Linked DNA regions of Homo sapiens: region 1 is reported to be linked to region 2. The links are microRNA targets in miRTarBase. Many come from high-throughput screens and were not tested one by one. Region 2 holds a microRNA gene; the other region holds the end of a gene's coding sequence.
The links. Region 2 holds the annotated microRNA hsa-miR-4758-3p (UGCCCCACCUGCUGACCACCCUC, at 2,331-2,353, opposite strand). A microRNA usually pairs through its seed, bases 2 to 8, with sites in the 3' UTR of a target mRNA and lowers its output. Matches are read on the target gene's strand: a 7mer-m8 pairs with bases 2 to 8, a 7mer-A1 pairs with bases 2 to 7 and ends in A, and an 8mer does both.

Region 1 (4,510 bases), not on the chromosome of region 2:
ACCACCAGTACCCTGGCCAAGGTAGGGGGACTCTCTCCTGGTCAGCTGGGATTCGCCCACAGCTTCTGGATCCCTGGCTGTCATCAAGGATGATGCCCGGGTGGCCTGATGCACCAGCATACATCAGGGCATCTCGGGACACACAGGAGCTTCCCCTCTGACCTTACGTGTGCATATGTGTGCTTTTTTTTTTTTTTTTTGGACAGGATCTTGCTCCATCACCCAGGCTGGAGTGCAGTGGTGCGATCTCGGCTCACCGCAGCCTCAACCTCCTGGGTCCAAGCCATCCTTCCAGATAGCTGGGACCACATGTGCATGCCACCCTGACTGGCTATAATTTTTTATTTTTTTATTCTGTTTCTGAGACCAAGTCTCACTCTGTTGCCCAGGCTGGAATGCAGTGGCACGATCTCATCTCACTGCAACCTCCGCCTCCCAGGTTCAAGTGATTCTCCTGCCTCAGCCTCCCAAGTAGCTGGGATTACAGGCACCCGCCGCCATGCCCAGCTAATTTTTGTACTTTTTAGTACAGATGGGGTCTCACCATCTTGGCCAGGCTGGTCTTGAACTCCTGACCTCAGGTGATCTGCCTGCCTCAGCCTCCCAAAGTGCTGGGATGACAGGCGTGAGCCACTGCACTTGGCCTTATATATATATATTTTTAGAGATAGGGTCTCGCTATGTTGCCCAGGGTGGTCTTGAACTCCTTGGCTCAAGTGATCCTCCTGCCTCGGCCTCCCAAAGCACTAGGTTTAACTGACATGAGCCACTGCGCCCAGGCTGGTGTGTGCTTTTATTTAAATTGTTCCGCAGTCCTATTTGGTTTGTTTCCTTTAATTAAATCTCAAATTTACAAGAGTCCAGACTGTCTGGACAGCCCAACAGGGACACAGAGAGTTTTACACACTGATGTCTCAACAGCACAGGGTTCCATCGGGACTTCGTGAGAAAATCAGGATCCATGTACGTTCTTGAAGAGCTGTCTCTCGGCCTAAGATAAGTGGAGAAGGTTGCCTTGGAAGCGTGGGGTAGAGGTAGGAACAGCTGGCTCTCTGGCCAAGGCCTTTGGCTTTTTCGCGGAAGCAAAAACCGAACCACGGGAAGGCTGCTCCGAGTCTGGGGTCAGAATTTCCTATCAGTGAGTGCAGCAGGCCAGGGAGAGGCGAAAGGGAGTGGAGAGGACTGTGGTGAAAGGGAGAGGGGCGGCCCCTGCACAGCTTCACCAGGCGTCAGTGCAGGCTCAGACGGCCGGACTGGCGAGTTTTCAAGAGAAACTCCAAATCCAGACAGGTGTGTGTGATCTCTTGGTTTTAAATGCAGACAAATTCCAAATGTCTCAAATACTGAATGGAGCCAGCTAGACCTACCTTCTCACCAAGTAAGGCCCACAGGCCCCTGCCGCAACCTCTACCCTCCACAGACAAGGTTCTGCAAAACAGTCATGGGACCTTGTTTCACCTCCCCCACAGGCACCCAAAATAACCTTCCTGACCTGCAGCAGCATTTTGCAATCTTTGAGAACCCCTGCCCCCTGCTGACAAACAAAAATGGCAAATAGACTCCCCCACACCACGCCTCCACGCCCTGAGCTGAGAATCGCCCGCATCTCGTGGGTGGTACCAGAGCCAAGACGACAGCCAAGCTTTGCTTTCTCAGCTCTGTCTTATAAAAGCAACATGGTTGGCTGGTTGGTTGCTGATTCTCCAAATATGAAATCACGATATTACAATGTGCACACTTTGTGAGGCCGAGGTAGGTAGGTCGCTTGAGCCCAGGAGTTCGAGACCATCCTGGGCAACATGGTGAGACCTTCTGTCTACAAAAAATACAAAGATTAGCCGGGTGTGCTCGTGCACACCTGTAGTCCCAGCTACCCGGGGCTGAGGTGGGAGGATCACTTGAGCCTGGAAGGAAGGGGCTGCAATGAGCCGAGATTTCACCACTGCACTCCAGCCTGGGTGACACAGCGAGACTTTGTCTCAAAACAATAAATAAATAAAATGTGCACACATCTCAGGTGGGTCCCCCCTCACCCCTGGGAGGTGGGCACGCTCCGTCCCCTCCCATGTGGCAGTCCCTGGATTGGAGCAGTTTCCCCTCCCGACCCAGGGCAGAGGTCTCCAGCTTCACGGAGGCATCCTGGCTGAACGTGCCAGCATTCACTGGAGCCTTCTTGAGTGGGGGCTTCCAGTACCACATCCTGTGGACTGAGGGGCTTCACGCACATTTATTCTCATTCAGTTCTCTGGGCCGCAAGTCTGAGATGAAGGTGTGGCCAGGGCTAGGTCCCTCCAAGGCTGAAGGGGATCTGCCCTGGGCCTCTCCCAGCTCCTGGTGGTGGCCGGCATCATTGGCCTTCCTTGCATGCATGTCTGTGTCCAAATACTTTTTTTTTTCTTTCTAAGACAGAGTCCCACTCTCACCCAAGCTGGAGTGCAGTGGCATGATCATCGGTCACTGCAGCCTCTTAACTCCTGGGCTCAAGTGATCTTCCCTCGTCATCTCTCAAGTAGCTGGGATTATACGTGTGCACCACCACAGTCACTTTTTTTTTTTTTTTTTTTTTTTTTTTTGAGACGAGTCTCGCTCTGTCACCAGGCTGAAGTGCAGTGGTGCAATCTCGGCTCACTGCAACCTCCGCCTCCCTGCAACCTGCGCCTCCCAGGTTCAAGCGATTCTCCTGCCTCAGCCTCCCAAGTAGCTGGGACTACAGGCACGCAACACCATGCCCGGCTAATTTTTGTATTTTTAGTAGAGACGGGGTTTCACCATGTTGGCCAGGATGGTCTCGATCTCTTGACCTTGTGATCTGCCCGCCTCAGCCTCCCAAAGTGCTGGGATTACAGGTGTGAGCCACCACGCCCGGCCCACCACGATAATTTTTTTTTTGTAGAGACGAGGGTCTCACCATGTTGCCCAGACTGGTCTTGAACTTCTGAGTTCAAGCAATCTTCCTGCCTCGGCCTCCCAAAGTGCTGGAATTAGAGTAGTGAGCCACTGCACGTGGCCTCAATCCCCCACTCCCCCGCTTCTTTTTTTGAGACAGAGTCTTGCTCTGTCACCCAGGCTGGAGTGCAGTGGCACAATCTCGGCTCACTGCAACCTCCTCCTCCTGGTTCAAGTGATTATCCTGCCTCAGCCTCCCGAGTAGCTGGGACTACAGGCATGTGCCACCATGCCCAGCTAATTTTTTGTATTTTCAGTAGAGATGGGGTTTCACCGTGTTAGCCAGGATGGTCTCGATCTCCTGACCTCGTGATCCGCCCGCCTCAGCCTCTCAAAGTGCTGGGATTACAGGCGTGAGCCACCGCGCCCTGCCCCAGGCCCCCTTTTTTTAAGGACCCCAGTCCTTGAATTGGGGCCCACCCTACTCCAAGATGAGATCATCTGAACTAATTCCATCTGTAATGATCCTATTTCCAAATCAGATCATCTTCTGAGGTCCTGGGGGTTAGGACGTGAGTTTATGGAAGGGGGGGTGCCGCGACTTGCCCCCTAACACTTCCCTTCCCCCAGTTCACCGTGTGAACCCGTAGTCCTTGTGCGAGGGATGAAAATCCCAGGCGACATGATCCAAGTGGGAGGCAGCAGCTTTTGGCTTTTACATCAAGCGACCCAGGGGTCGGCGTGGCCCAGAAAGTACAAACGGGTGAAAGGTGGTCCCCAGAGTAGGGCCCCAAATTCCTCTCCCCATTGGGCGGGGGCCAGGAGGAGAGGTGACATTGGTGTTTGAAACAGCTGCTACAGATGCCTCAGCATCCTCTCAAAGGAGACAGGTCACCCATCTGTCTAGGGGAGTTTGGCCGGAGTCCGATTGGGAGAAAAGAGGTGGAAAAAAACCCACAAACCCCACCCGCGCCCAGCAGGAGAGCCCCAAAAGGCGCGAGGGGCGCGGTTGGGCGGCGCCGGGGTTCAGAGGCTGCCCTCGTCCAGCATCCGGCCCAGGCCCTCGCAGATCCTGCGCAGGTGGGAGCGGTAGGGCTCGGCGGGGCCGTAGAGCGCAGCCAGGAAGTCGCAGTCGGCTAGGTGGCCGAACACGTGGTTGATGCGGCCGTGGGACTTGGCGGTCAGGTGGGGACCCACGGCCTGGTGCAGCAGGTCGCGGCACTCGAGCAGCCCGGCGGCCAGCACGCGCCGGTCGAAGGTGAAGTCCACCTGGTGGAAGCTGACGGCCGTCATGGCCAGGCAGCGCGCCCGGTGGCGGAAGCGCCGCAGCAGCGCCAGCTCCTCACCGCCCAGCTGGTCCCCACGCAGCAGCAGTCCCAGCTTCAGGGCCACCTTGACCAGGTTCTTGAGCATCTTCTGGGCCTCCTTGCGGCTGCGCGTGAACTCCCTGGTGGCGCGGTACAGCTCATCCAGCACCTCACTGCTGGTGTCATCCACCAGCACGGCCACCACTGCCTTGGACGCCATCTTACTCAGGAGCTTCTTCTGCGCCTGCAGAGCCAGGCTCTTGGTGCTGAAGGTGTCCATGGCCTGCGGGGGACACAGACCAGCCCTCAGTTTTGCA
Region 2 (4,000 bases):
AGGCTTGGCCGAGCCAGGAACCAGACAAACACACAGGGCCACATGTGCTGCCAGCGGCATCCTGGGGCAAGCCCTCAATTCGCCACGTGCCATGGAGCACAACGGGGCTTCCCAACGCACGAGACAGAGGCGAGACCCAGGCTTTTCTGGGAACGGGAGCGGGCGGGTAGGGGCTGCGGGCTGCAAGGGCAGCTAGTTTGAGAACTGATGGCAGGACAGAGTCATGTTGCCTGTCGCTCATAGCAGGTAGCACAGGCCACGCTGTGGCGCCGGCATTCCAGCCTCATCGTGTGTGGTAGCCTCTCCACCCCCCACACCAGACACTCACCCTGCCACACGCGGCCGGCGTTGATGAGGACTTCCACGGGGAAGGTGGGGTGGGCTGGCTGGTAGCCGTGCAGCAGGAAGGCATAGCGGCCCAGCGTGGGCACATGGGTGGTGAAGACCACGGTGGCCTGCAGGGATAGGCCCTAGTGAGCAGGCTGAGCTATGAGCCCCTGCTGCCCCCTGGACAACCTGCCCTGGGTTGGGACCCGGAGTCCTGCCCTGACACCCCCGTCCCTCTAGAGACTATGGCCCTCACCTGGGGCTCACGCAGCAGGGTGGGCTCTGCATCAGGGTCCACAGCGGTGGGGGGCCGAGGTCGGGGTCCAGCTGGGGACATGGCTGGAGTGAGATCCTGCGCGTGGGTCAGCGGGAGGCCGGGCGGCAGCGGGATCACCTGGCAGTCCCTGAGGATGATGGGCTGGGGCGGCTTTGGGAAGCGCGAGGGCAGACAGGCGGCACTGGTGAGAGCACAGTGGGTGAGTCAGAGCCGGCCCTGCCGCCGGGCCCTCGGCCGCGCCCCTCCCAGCCCCATTACCTGCCATTACCTGTTGGGGCCAAAGGCGCCGTGGCTGCTGATGCAGCTGACCCGGGGCTCCACGAACTCCGGGCTGAACTCCTCAATGGGCACCAGAGTGACCCCGTGCTGCAGGCAGAGGGACGAGATGCTGCAACGCCCGTGGTGCGGGGAGGATAGGGGGTGCAGGCGGTACGATGGGGGGGTGCAGGCGGTACGATGGGGGGGTGCAGGCGGTACGATGGGGAGTGCAGGCGGTACGATGGGGGGGGTGCAGGCGGTACGATGGGGGGGTGTAGGCGGTACGATGGGGGGTGCAGGCGGTACGATGGGGGGGCCGGTCACACAGCTCAGACCCAGGAAACTGCAAACCCAGGCGTCCGACCGAGCCCTGCTCTTTCCAAGATGCCCTTGCTCCTCCTCCAGCTGCACAAACCCCAACCGCAGACCAGCGTGTTGGCCAGTTCCTGGGCCCACAGGCCTATGCGGCTCCTCCCATAGCCCTCTTCCTCCCCCTCGCCCTCCCATCCGTCACTGTTCCCCCACTCTTATCTCGAGTGCTGCTTGGTGCCACCAGGCCGGGCCAGGCCCAGCTCTCCCAGGACCTGACCCAGGCAGGCACTCAGCAGGCACAAGCCGCAAATGGGTGCTCCCTTTCCGTGCGGCCATGTGAGGTTGGTGTCTCGGAACACGGCAACTTATCCGCTGACACAACGGTGGGAGACGCGGCTGCACAGAACATGTTGTGTGGCATTTATAGAAAGTGCCAGGCCAGGTATGGTGGCTCCTGTCTGTAATCCCAGCATTTTGGGAGGCCCAAGAGGGCGGATCACCTGAGGTCAGGAGTTTGAGAATAGCCTGGCCAATATGGTGAAACCCTGTCTCTCCTAAAAATACGAAAATTAGCCAGGCGTGGTGGTGAGTGCCTATAGTCTCAGGTACTTGGGAGACTGAGGCACGAGAATCGCTTGAACCCAGGAGGTGGAGGTTGCAGTGAGCCAAGATCTTGCCATTGCGCTCCAGCCTGGGCGACAGAGTGAGACTCCATTTCAAAAAAAAAAAAAAAGAAAAGAAAGTTCCAGAACAGGCAACCAACGCTGTCTGTGCCAGGAGGTGGCTGCCCTGGGGCCAGGGAGCTGTGACTGCAGGTGCTTTCCTGAGCACATGGAACAGCTCGGGGGTACGTCAAAAGGGACTGAATCCACAAAACGCTTGCAGGAGGGGTTCCAGAAGAAACATGCTGGGCTGGGCATGAGCGAGTGTGGCCGCCTTGGGGACCTGGGACCCCAACTGTCCTCTCCCCTCTCATGCATGTTTCAAATCTTCTGAAAGAAGCTGACCCCTTGGGGTGGGGACCTGAGGGGTCCTTACCAGGAAGAAGCGTGCCTGTTCGGCTGTGAGCCTCACGCTGGCCTCCGAGTCCAGGTGGAAGACAGCCAGGTGGTCCTGGGTATCCCGGGCAGTGCCCCGGCACAGGGTGCTGTGGGGGGAGGGTGGTCAGCAGGTGGGGCAGCCCCGGGCGTGCCCTTACTCCAGCCCCACCGGCTCCCACTCACCTGTACAGGCAGGGGTGCAGGGAGAGCAGCCCCTGCTGGGGGGCCCGCTGTGGGGTGTGCACGGCCACGCCCACCTCCTGGCGGGCATCCTCATTGGCGTACTCCACCACTAGGGCATAGCGGCCTGGCTGTGGCACTGCCACTTGAAGCTGGACGTCCACCTGCAGGGAAGGCAGGGTGACGGGAGGCCCGCCACCCCTCGCCCTTCCCACCTCCCTCCCCTCCCACTCCAGCGCCTCCCTGACCCCAGGGCCTGCCCTTCAGCCGAGTCCCACCCTGGCCCGGACATCTCCAGGCAAGTGGTGGGGGCTGAGCTGTATGTGGAGGCCACAGCCAATCCTACATACAGACAGGCACTGAGGTCACACATGCAGGAGGCAGGAGGCAGGAGGCAGGGGCGCCCTGCCTGGGTGCTGGGCTCCATTGCCTGAGGCAGCGCCCTGCTCCTATAACCTGCCACCGCCACAGGACCCCCAGCCCCCAGGCCAAGGTCCTGCAACACCCATTGCTCCGTGGGGTCCCAGGACACGCACATCACTGCCCGTGCAGGTGATCAGTGGCGGGTGCGACGGGCTGAGCTGCTCCGTGGGGCAGGGCCGGGGCAGGCTGTTGTCCTGGCGACACAGGGCCTCCAGCCCGGCGGCCGAGGGGAAGCCATCCAGGGGGAGGTGTGTGTAGAGGAGGCAGCTGGGGGGACACAGGCCGTGGTCAGCCCCAGGTCCACCCAGGTCCCCAGAGACAGCCTGAGTGGGGGAAGCCAGGCACAGTGGGGGTCCAGGAAGCCCCCACCCCGGTCCCACCGCACGCATGGCCCTCACTTGTCGCCAGACTGCTGGGCAGAGGGACGGTATGTGCAGGCCTCAGTCACCCGCAGCTGCAGGAGCGCCGCCTCGTAGTATGCGCTAGGCAGCAGAACCACGTAGTCCTGCAGGGTGGAGGTGGTGCTGAGAGTGGTGGGCCCCACCCCCTGACCCGGCCCCCAGCCCTCACTCTGGCCCCTGCCTCACCAGGAGCACCCCTTCGGCCTCCACACGCAGGGCCCAGGTGCCAGGGTTCAGCACAAAGGGCTCTCCGAAGCCCCTCTGGGGCACGGTGATGAAGGCAGGCTCCGTGCTGGGTGGGAAGGCCACGGGCTGACTCTGTGCTGTGCCTGGGCGGGGGCAGGGGTGAGACTCCTGAGCCCAGCCCTTGGGGCCACCCCAGGCTGCACCCCCTACAGGGTTGGGGATAGGCTGGTCCTACCACCCACATGAGCCAGAGGAAGGTGGCGGGGCTTGGGAGTGGGGTGGGGTGGGGTGGGCTGGGCTGGTGGGGCAGGGGCTGTGGCCCAGGGACCCCACTCACAGTTGGCGCAGGTGGCCGACCTGCCCTCCTCTCGCACAGAGACCCGCCCGCTCACACTCATGGCCCCCCGGTTGACGTATCGGAAGACGAGCCAGAAAAGGTCAGGGGAGGTCAGGTTCAGCCTGGCCACGATCCTGGGCTGGGTGGGCATGGAGCGTCGGGTCACTCTCCCTGACCACTGCCAGCCTGAGGCCTGGGCCTTCAAGGGGCCTGCCCACCCCTCCCTGCCAGCCACGCCTGGCTCCACTTCTAGGCTGAG

Region 1: the mRNA of TNFAIP8L1 is a reported target of hsa-miR-4758-3p. Seed matches in the 3' UTR shown: 7mer-A1 at 3,316-3,322.

What each region holds. Positions count from the first base shown.
Region 1 is chr19:4,651,833-4,656,342 of GRCh38, reverse strand. TNFAIP8L1 (TNF alpha induced protein 8 like 1) reads right to left here. Exons shown (of 2, transcript NM_152362.3): 2 at 775-4,476. The coding sequence starts at 4,473. The coding sequence ends at 3,913. Among named protein-coding and RNA genes, the nearest start is that of TNFAIP8L1, 15 kb to the right of the region's middle. RefSeq lists a silencer at 1,562-1,611.
Region 2 is chr20:62,330,160-62,334,159 of GRCh38, forward strand. MIR4758 (microRNA 4758) reads right to left here and starts at 2,398; the gene lies at 2,328-2,398. LAMA5 (laminin subunit alpha 5) reads right to left here. Exons shown (of 80, transcript NM_005560.6): 23 at 3,742-3,880; 24 at 3,405-3,547; 25 at 3,216-3,322; 26 at 2,931-3,084; 27 at 2,398-2,558; 28 at 2,213-2,321; 29 at 873-970; 30 at 584-785; 31 at 329-455.